2 linked regions of the Homo sapiens genome follow. The protein of the gene in region 2 purifies or fractionates together with the protein of the main gene of each other region. This does not show direct contact. Each region holds a gene or a part of one and is shown on either strand. Other genes may lie near its edges.

Region 1 (3,500 bases), on a different chromosome or scaffold from region 2:
AAAAGAGGTTTCATGTTAAGTGAACTAAAAATTCTGTTAGCGGCCGAGTGTGGTGGCTCACACCTGTAATCCCAGCACTTTGGGAGGCTGAGGCGGGCAGATCACGAGGTCAGGAATTCACACCAGCCTGGTCAACATGGTGAAACCCCGTCTCTACTAAACATACAAAAAATTAGCCAGGCATGGTGGCATGCACCCGTAGTCCCAGCTACTCAGGAGGCTGAGGCAGGAGAATCGCTTGAACCCGGGAGGTGGAGGTTGCAGTGAGCCAAGACTGAGCCCCTGCACTCCAGCCTGAGCGACAGAGCGAGACTCTGTCTCAAAAAAAAAAAAAAAATCTGTTCGCCTCGTAACCATACTAGTCATCATCCTCAGTAATTGCGATGTTACCCCAGGGACCCAGATGGTCCTCTGGGTTCCCTGGGCTCTTGAATATATCAACAACATTCACATTTAGGAGGACTGCAACTGCTTCATTTTGTGCTGACTGCTGTAACCCTGTAGGTATATTTCTATAATAAGATATGACCATCAGTTGTCGTAATATCTACTGAAGTGTCTCAAATATGTATATATTTTAGATGTATTAAATAACACTATCTTTGGCTTAGCAGGTTTTTCAGATTTGTACATTATTGGGCAAATGTTATTGTATATCCTAATTATTATTGTTAATTATTAATTAATTATTGTTAATGTCTCTGAAAATGAATGGTAGCTTAAGCTATTTTGCCAGAATATTCAGACCTGAGAGTTTTGGTGTACTTTTTCCTGTGAAATATTATGGTTTGTACTTAGTTGAAGGAACAGAGTGTAAGCAATTTACTTACCTTTGGGGGCAGGATGTTGAGAAAGAACTGGAGATGCAGATCAGCATGAGGCAGGAGATGGAATTGGCTATGAAGATGCTGGAGAAGGATGTCTGTGAGAAGCAGGATGCCCTGGTATCTCTTCGGCAGCAGCTGGATGACCTCAGAGCTCTCAAGCATGAACTTGCCTTTAAGCTGCAGGTAGGGGAAATATGAGGAATAGACTCACTGGCTCTCTAAAATCCTGGGGCTTCCCTCCTCCCATCTGATCCTCCAGAATCACACTTTAATTACAAGAGGAAAGAATCACATCTCATTTTGATGCTAGCTGCCAGTAAACTACTTTCAGAATCAGACAACCATGGGATCCTGTATTGCTGTTCTAGAAAACCATGGCCACTTTTCACATTATAGTAGAGGATGAGGGTCTTTTTTATCCTATAGGGTAATTTCTACTCTGCAGTCTACCGTGCCAGCTAAGTTATATATTCTATTAGCTTTTACACTGGAATGTGATACATTGATGAACTATTACTGTGATCACACTGCATATAACAATACTAACTTTAGATAAATTGCTTTTTTTTCCATTTCAGGATTAACTGATATTGAAATATATGAACATTTCTGTTTTCCCACTTACCATTAGATTCAAAAGGCATGTGTGGTTGTATTTTAGGATTTATGTTATACAGGTTGTTTATCGTTATTTTCCATAACAGAGTTCAGACTTAGGAGTAAAACAGAAAAGTGAACTAAACAGTCGCTTGGAAGAGAAGACTAATCAGATGGCTGCTACCATTAAACAACTTGAACAAAGGTAAAAGTCCTGTTTCTTTAATGAAACACTTTGGATTGTCAGTGCTGAAGTGAAAAGAATGTGCTGTACATTCGGCAAATAGAAAATACATGAAATTCTTCCAAATTAGCATCAGACATTCTGGTAGAAAAAAGCCAGTTGAATGTTATGTGTGTTTTCTAAGGTATGACTGAAATGTTTTTAGGAAATGTCAATCACTTGACTAGCCTTTAAAAAAAAAAAAGAAAGGTCAGCCTTTTATGACTGTTTTGAACATCAGAACTCTTAATCCATGTCAGAGTCATGTGTTAGAGGAAGGATACTTAAAAGCATGGAAGGACTCTTAAATGTATGTATGTAATTCTGTGATTTTATTGTTCATCACTGAAGTCTTTGAATACTTGGATGCTAGGGGATATAGAGGCACTGAGAGATAGGTGTCCTCCAAGGATCTATTCTGGATCTTTCTCTCCCTTCTTTAACCCTTTTCTCTTATCTCCCTTTTCTTTCTCCTGGGTAGTTCTGTAGCTTCCACTGTCACCTCCAGTGTGTTTTCCCAGCTCTTACCTTCATCTGGAGACCAGTCTTGAGTTTTCATCCTTTGGGCAGCTATCTTCCACCAGTATCTACAATTCAGTCTGCCCAAAGCACATCTTCTTCCTATGCTACTCTCTTTCTGTGCTTATGTGAAACCACCATTTTCTCTCTGGCAACTTAGCAGCCAAGAGAAATGGCTGAGTCTTCAAGGATGAATGTGACGTGGTACCCAAGGTCATTTGATGTTTCTACCCTTAACACCTGTTTGTCACCCTTCTTGCACTTGAGCAAAACTAAACTGCTGGTCCCTGTACTTCCCATTTTTCCCATTTATTTCTTTCCCAATAGTTCCACCAATTAGAAATGTCCTAATTCTTCCCACTCCCTTATTCGTCAGATACATTTTTAAGTTTAGGCTCAAATGCCACCTCCCCAGAGTTTCCTCTGATACCTCTTTGCAGCTAGAAATGATCTGTCTTTCTGGGAACTCCCATAGCTTCATACTCATATCTATCTATACTGCTTATGGCACTTCTCACTGTCTACTGTACCTTTTAACTCTTTATATATGTCTCCTCCGATGCGAGTGTAAGCTCCCTGAGATTAGTTAACGAATCTTTTAAGTTCCCGTATTAGATCTGTCGCAGTGCCTTGAATATACAAGCATTCATTCAGTAGATATATGAATGAATGGATTAATGGGTGATTTCTTATATTCAGATGATTCTTAACCAGTAAGGGTCCTGAACAGCAGTGCATATTAATGTTAACTCAAAACTTAATGGCAAATTTATAAATAAACCTGAAACCTCTTACATAGCCAAATACAAATGTATCAGTCTACCTAGGAAAGATGGTTAGGTACTTGCTCATAAACAGTTATATGTTTATGATTTAACAAAATGATTTTACTGTTCATAAATTGTGCTTTTGAAATGAAATGTATCAAATTTCTTTTCAATGATGTTTTGACTTGGAATTTAAAGCAAACAGAAAGAGAATAATGACTTATCTCTTTGAGTATTAAGCTGACTTATTCTCTTGCTATTTTTGTGTTTCCTGTTTATCCATTTTCTCATTCTCCTTTCACTTCATTGTCATTTTTATTTTATTTAGTGAAAAGGATTTGGTGAAACAGGCAAAGACCTTAAATAGTGCAGCAAATAAACTGATCCCAAAACATCATTAGGCATTTTTAAGTTGGTCACGTCGCAAGTCCGATATCACAACTTAATTGTAAAAGGAAGAAATCTGAAAGTTACTACATTTAAGCTCTGATTCTATATAAAATGTCACCAAAAAGTTGACTTTGAATTTGTTGGACTTTTAAAAAACCAGTTGGAAATATAGGTTGG
Region 2 (3,947 bases):
CCCTGTAAGGGCTAGAACCCAGGTCTGATTATCTCCTGAACTGTGCTCCAGATACAATTCAGCCAAAGCCACTCCACAAATAACAATAATGATAGATCCACTCTCACGACATATTTCTGTCACATCTAGCAACCAGCTGGCAAGATTAAACCAGGAATTTAGAAGGGGAGAGAGAGAACGCAGAGGCAGATATGCAGGGGTAATACATGGAACACAAGCAAGTTGTCAAAGAGCCAGTCCCAGTGATGTCATACATCACTGAGCAACCTTGGGCAAGATGCCTCAACCTCTCTGGCCTCAGTCTTTTCATCTTTACAGGTTAGAAAATGTCAGGGATTGCAAGGATTGGATGGAATGATACGCCAAATACACCCTCCGAAGGGCTCAAGTGATTGCAACGATTGGATGGAATGGTACACTGACTACACCCTCCAAAGGACTCAAGGGTTCTTTTGGTGAATACACCAAAAGGTCTATTTCTTCATCCTTGTTAAAACTTTGGAAATGTTAACTCACAACTCTCATAGTCTACCAGCACTTATCTGCAACATTTTGAGAAAACTAAATATAATTTTCTTTTTTTTTTTTTTTTTTTTTTTTGGAGATGGAGTCTCACTCTGTCACCCAGGCTGGAGTGCAGTGGCTCAATCTCGGCTCACTGCAACCTCCACCTCCTGGGTTCAAGCAATTCTCCTGCCTCAGCCTCCCGAGTAGCTGGGATTACAGGCACCCACCACCACGCCCAGCTAATTTTTGTATTTTTAGTAAAGACAGGGTTTCATCATGTTGGCCAGGCTGATCTCGAACTCCCGACCTCAGGTGATCCACCCACCTCAACCTCCTAAAGTGCTGGGATTACAGGCATGAGCCACCATGCCCGGCAATTTTCTTATGTTATGCCCCATTTCCTTTTCACAAAAATGAACTCCCCCTCCCCTCAAAGTGCTCAATTTTTACAGGGAACCAGTACAGGTTTTTGAAATTTTCCTTTCCTTCATGAAGAATCTGACATTTCTACTATACCAATAACAATAGGAGCAAAGAGTTTACCCTGTATTTGCATAATTAGTTAGAAAGATGAGAATTTCCGTGGCCTCCGAAAAAGGAGCTCTGCATCTTTAAAACTCTGCGAGGCTCCCTGCCTTCCGCGCAGACCGAGCAGACTGCCGCAGCGACTCATCCTATCGATAAGGTTCAGTTAGCCAAGGTGGAGGATGGGAAAAGAATGGAACTGTCCCAGCTACTCAATGAGATCAGGGCAAACTATGAAAAGATCCTCACCAGAAATCAGATAGAGACGGTGCTCTCAACAAGGATCCAGGTAATGATTTCATACAGACAGGCACCTTCCAGAATAAGGAGACAGTCCATGTCTACCCAATTCCTGTCCCGGCCTCTCTGAGGTACAGTATTTCCTTTTCGATGCAGCATCTATTGGGGAAGGAATTTAGCTTCTACTGCAGTGTGACTGGGACTACAGGGGGAAATACTGTGATTATATTGTTAAATTGCCATTAAGTAAGTGTTGATTGATGCATTTGATTTTTATATAAATTGTGAGGTTCCTATCATTAACATGGGGTCAACATACCATAAAATGGTGCACTCTAACCTCTTACAATCTTCAGGAAGGAACCATTCCAAATACCCTTCAAAGATATTATTGGAGTTATTTACAGAGATAATTTAAATAACATCTTTAAAATGAAAAATCTTTAAGTAAGATTTATTAGCATGTACACTTTCTAGAGATATTTCTAAAAGGTTTCTATCATCTTTTTAACGAGTTCCATTTTATACCAGATTGTTATAAATAGAAATCATCTGAGTGTGTGAACATGGCATTCAGAAACAATGATATAAATTATGACCATTGAAATTCCCCAAATTGGTAACGATTCTCCACTAAGATTTTTGCTTCTGTACTATAAGATGAGAAACATTTCTTTCCATTACAAAGCTTGTAATATTTAAGTATTTAAAAAAGAGAAAGAGAGCCTACTTAGATAAGGACTAAATCCTAATTTCATAGACTTAGTTTTAAAGTAACAATCACCTTCAGCAAGTAATTAAGGTCTCAAGTCTTTAAACAAATTTACAAACAAATATTTTAGAAACAAAGATTAAGAAATTTAGGGGATTTTTTAGTTTACCTATCATATATGGGTTCAAGTTATCTTCCAAACCCTGAAATACAGCAAAAAGTTTACTTAAGAATATCACCCAAAATTTTAAAAAAAAAAATTGGTAGAAAAATGTCAGGCCTTTATTCCATTAGCCACTCATTTTTAGTTCCATTGTAAATTTCACCTCTAGATAACATTTTCAGCCTTCATAAAGAATGATCAACATCTTAGATTAAGCAAAGTCACTGGTACAGGTAAGCATTGGGATAGTTCATTCACCTTTACAAACAGAAGAAAAAAATCAATAGATGACAACTTCTAAAAATCATAAACAAAACACTTAACTTTGCAGTAGTAGAAATATGAGTTTAGTTTACAAGTCACAGGGCCAAAATGAGTAAATTCAAATGAAAAAGCAAGACTACGGTGAGTTTTGTTTAAAGTGTCTTTTAATTTGAAACTACTTTAGAGGATTTTCTTCCAAATAACTCAGAAAGTCAGCTGAAATAAATTCAAGACAGCCTGATTAGTTATTTTTTTAAATTTCTAAATAAGCTATTTTAGTTACAGATTGTTGTATAACACCCCAAAACTCATCTGGGACCTCAATCGTCTTGGGGCATGACTGGGCTCACTTATGTGTCTGGCACTTTGGCAGGGCATTGCCGAAAGGCTGGCTCTGCTGGGACTTTCTCTCTCACTTCACGTAGCCTCAGGGTCTCTCTCCATCTGGCCTTTCTACAGGATCTCTCCAGCAGGGTATCCAGACTTCTTGCATATTGGCCCAAGGCTCCCAAAAGCATAGAAGTGGAAGCTATCAGGCTTCCTAAGACTTAGGTCTAGAAGTGGCACAGCATTCCTTCTGCCTCATTCTACTGGTTAAAGCAAGACCCAGGTCAGCCCAGAGTCAATGTAGAAGGGGATCACCCTAGGACTCATCTTGGGAGATAGACTTCTTTAGGGGCCATCTTGGGACTGTAGTTACCGAACAAGCTTAGCTGCCAGTTCCATATTTGAAAGCCACAAGACCAGCAGATACCAGCATTTTTCTGTTTTCTTCTCTCCAAAATTCCTTACTTTACCTTCTGTAGTTGCTCTGGTAGGTGTTGCTTGCTGCCTGACTTTGCCAAGTTAACACTAAGAACAGATTTTCAACAAACCAAAAGAAATGTACGAATTTTGTTCTCCAATACCTTGCCCTAAACTTTATTCATAAACTTTCATTTACTTCAACGTTTTTTTAAAAAAATCTAATGTATGATAAAATTAAATTTTTAAATGTTAAAATATATTTTTATAAGAAAATTAAAAGTTATAAATTTTGCTTCAAAATGCTACAATCAATTCTATACATTGTTCTCACTGTTCCTGGGGCCAAATGTTAAAAATTCTGTCAACAGATACTTTCTTTTCATTTCAACATCAACATAAAAACATTTAAAGCTAAATATAAAATATTCTACTTTTTTAATAGGAGAATATTTAGAAAACAATCCTTAGAGAAGTCATTTTTATTATTTATTCATTTTATTACCCAGATACCCAAAATTAATATGCCTTTTAAAAAGATCATCTTGAAAAAGGTCAATCAACAGATTTTCTTAATATGGAAGTCTATTTGTGAGCCTTATTGCCTATAACAACTTAATTCTCTAAATTACTAGTAATGTATTTCCTAGCAGTATTTACGCCCTATCCCTATACCTGGTCCCAGAATTGATCAGTTTTGGGGGTACGGCTGTTTATCTGCTTCTGCAAAGCAGCCTACAAGAAAATGTGGGGGGAAATAGCTAATTTTCAATCCTTCCTCCTAGTGATCCA

The links.
Region 1: the proteins of KRT222 (region 2) and RUFY3 purify together in Homo sapiens (affinity purification with mass spectrometry; one large-scale study listed by BioGRID and IntAct). This does not show direct contact.

Annotation. Positions count from the first base shown.
Region 1 is NC_000004.12:70,787,964-70,791,463, forward strand, and holds part of RUFY3 (protein RUFY3), read left to right. Parts: intron 1-842; coding exon 843-1,010; intron 1,011-1,531; coding exon 1,532-1,629; coding exon of another isoform or gene 1,630-1,633; exon of another isoform or gene 1,634-1,934; intron 1,935-3,261; coding exon of another isoform or gene 3,262-3,334; exon of another isoform or gene 3,335-3,500. UniProt on the Homo sapiens protein: ARL8 effector that promotes the coupling of endolysosomes to dynein-dynactin for retrograde transport along microtubules. Acts by binding both GTP-bound ARL8 and dynein-dynactin.
Region 2 is NC_000017.11:40,662,378-40,666,324, reverse strand, and holds the start of KRT222 (keratin-like protein KRT222), read left to right. Parts: upstream 1-1,147; 5' UTR 1,148-1,225; coding exon 1,226-1,321; intron 1,322-3,947.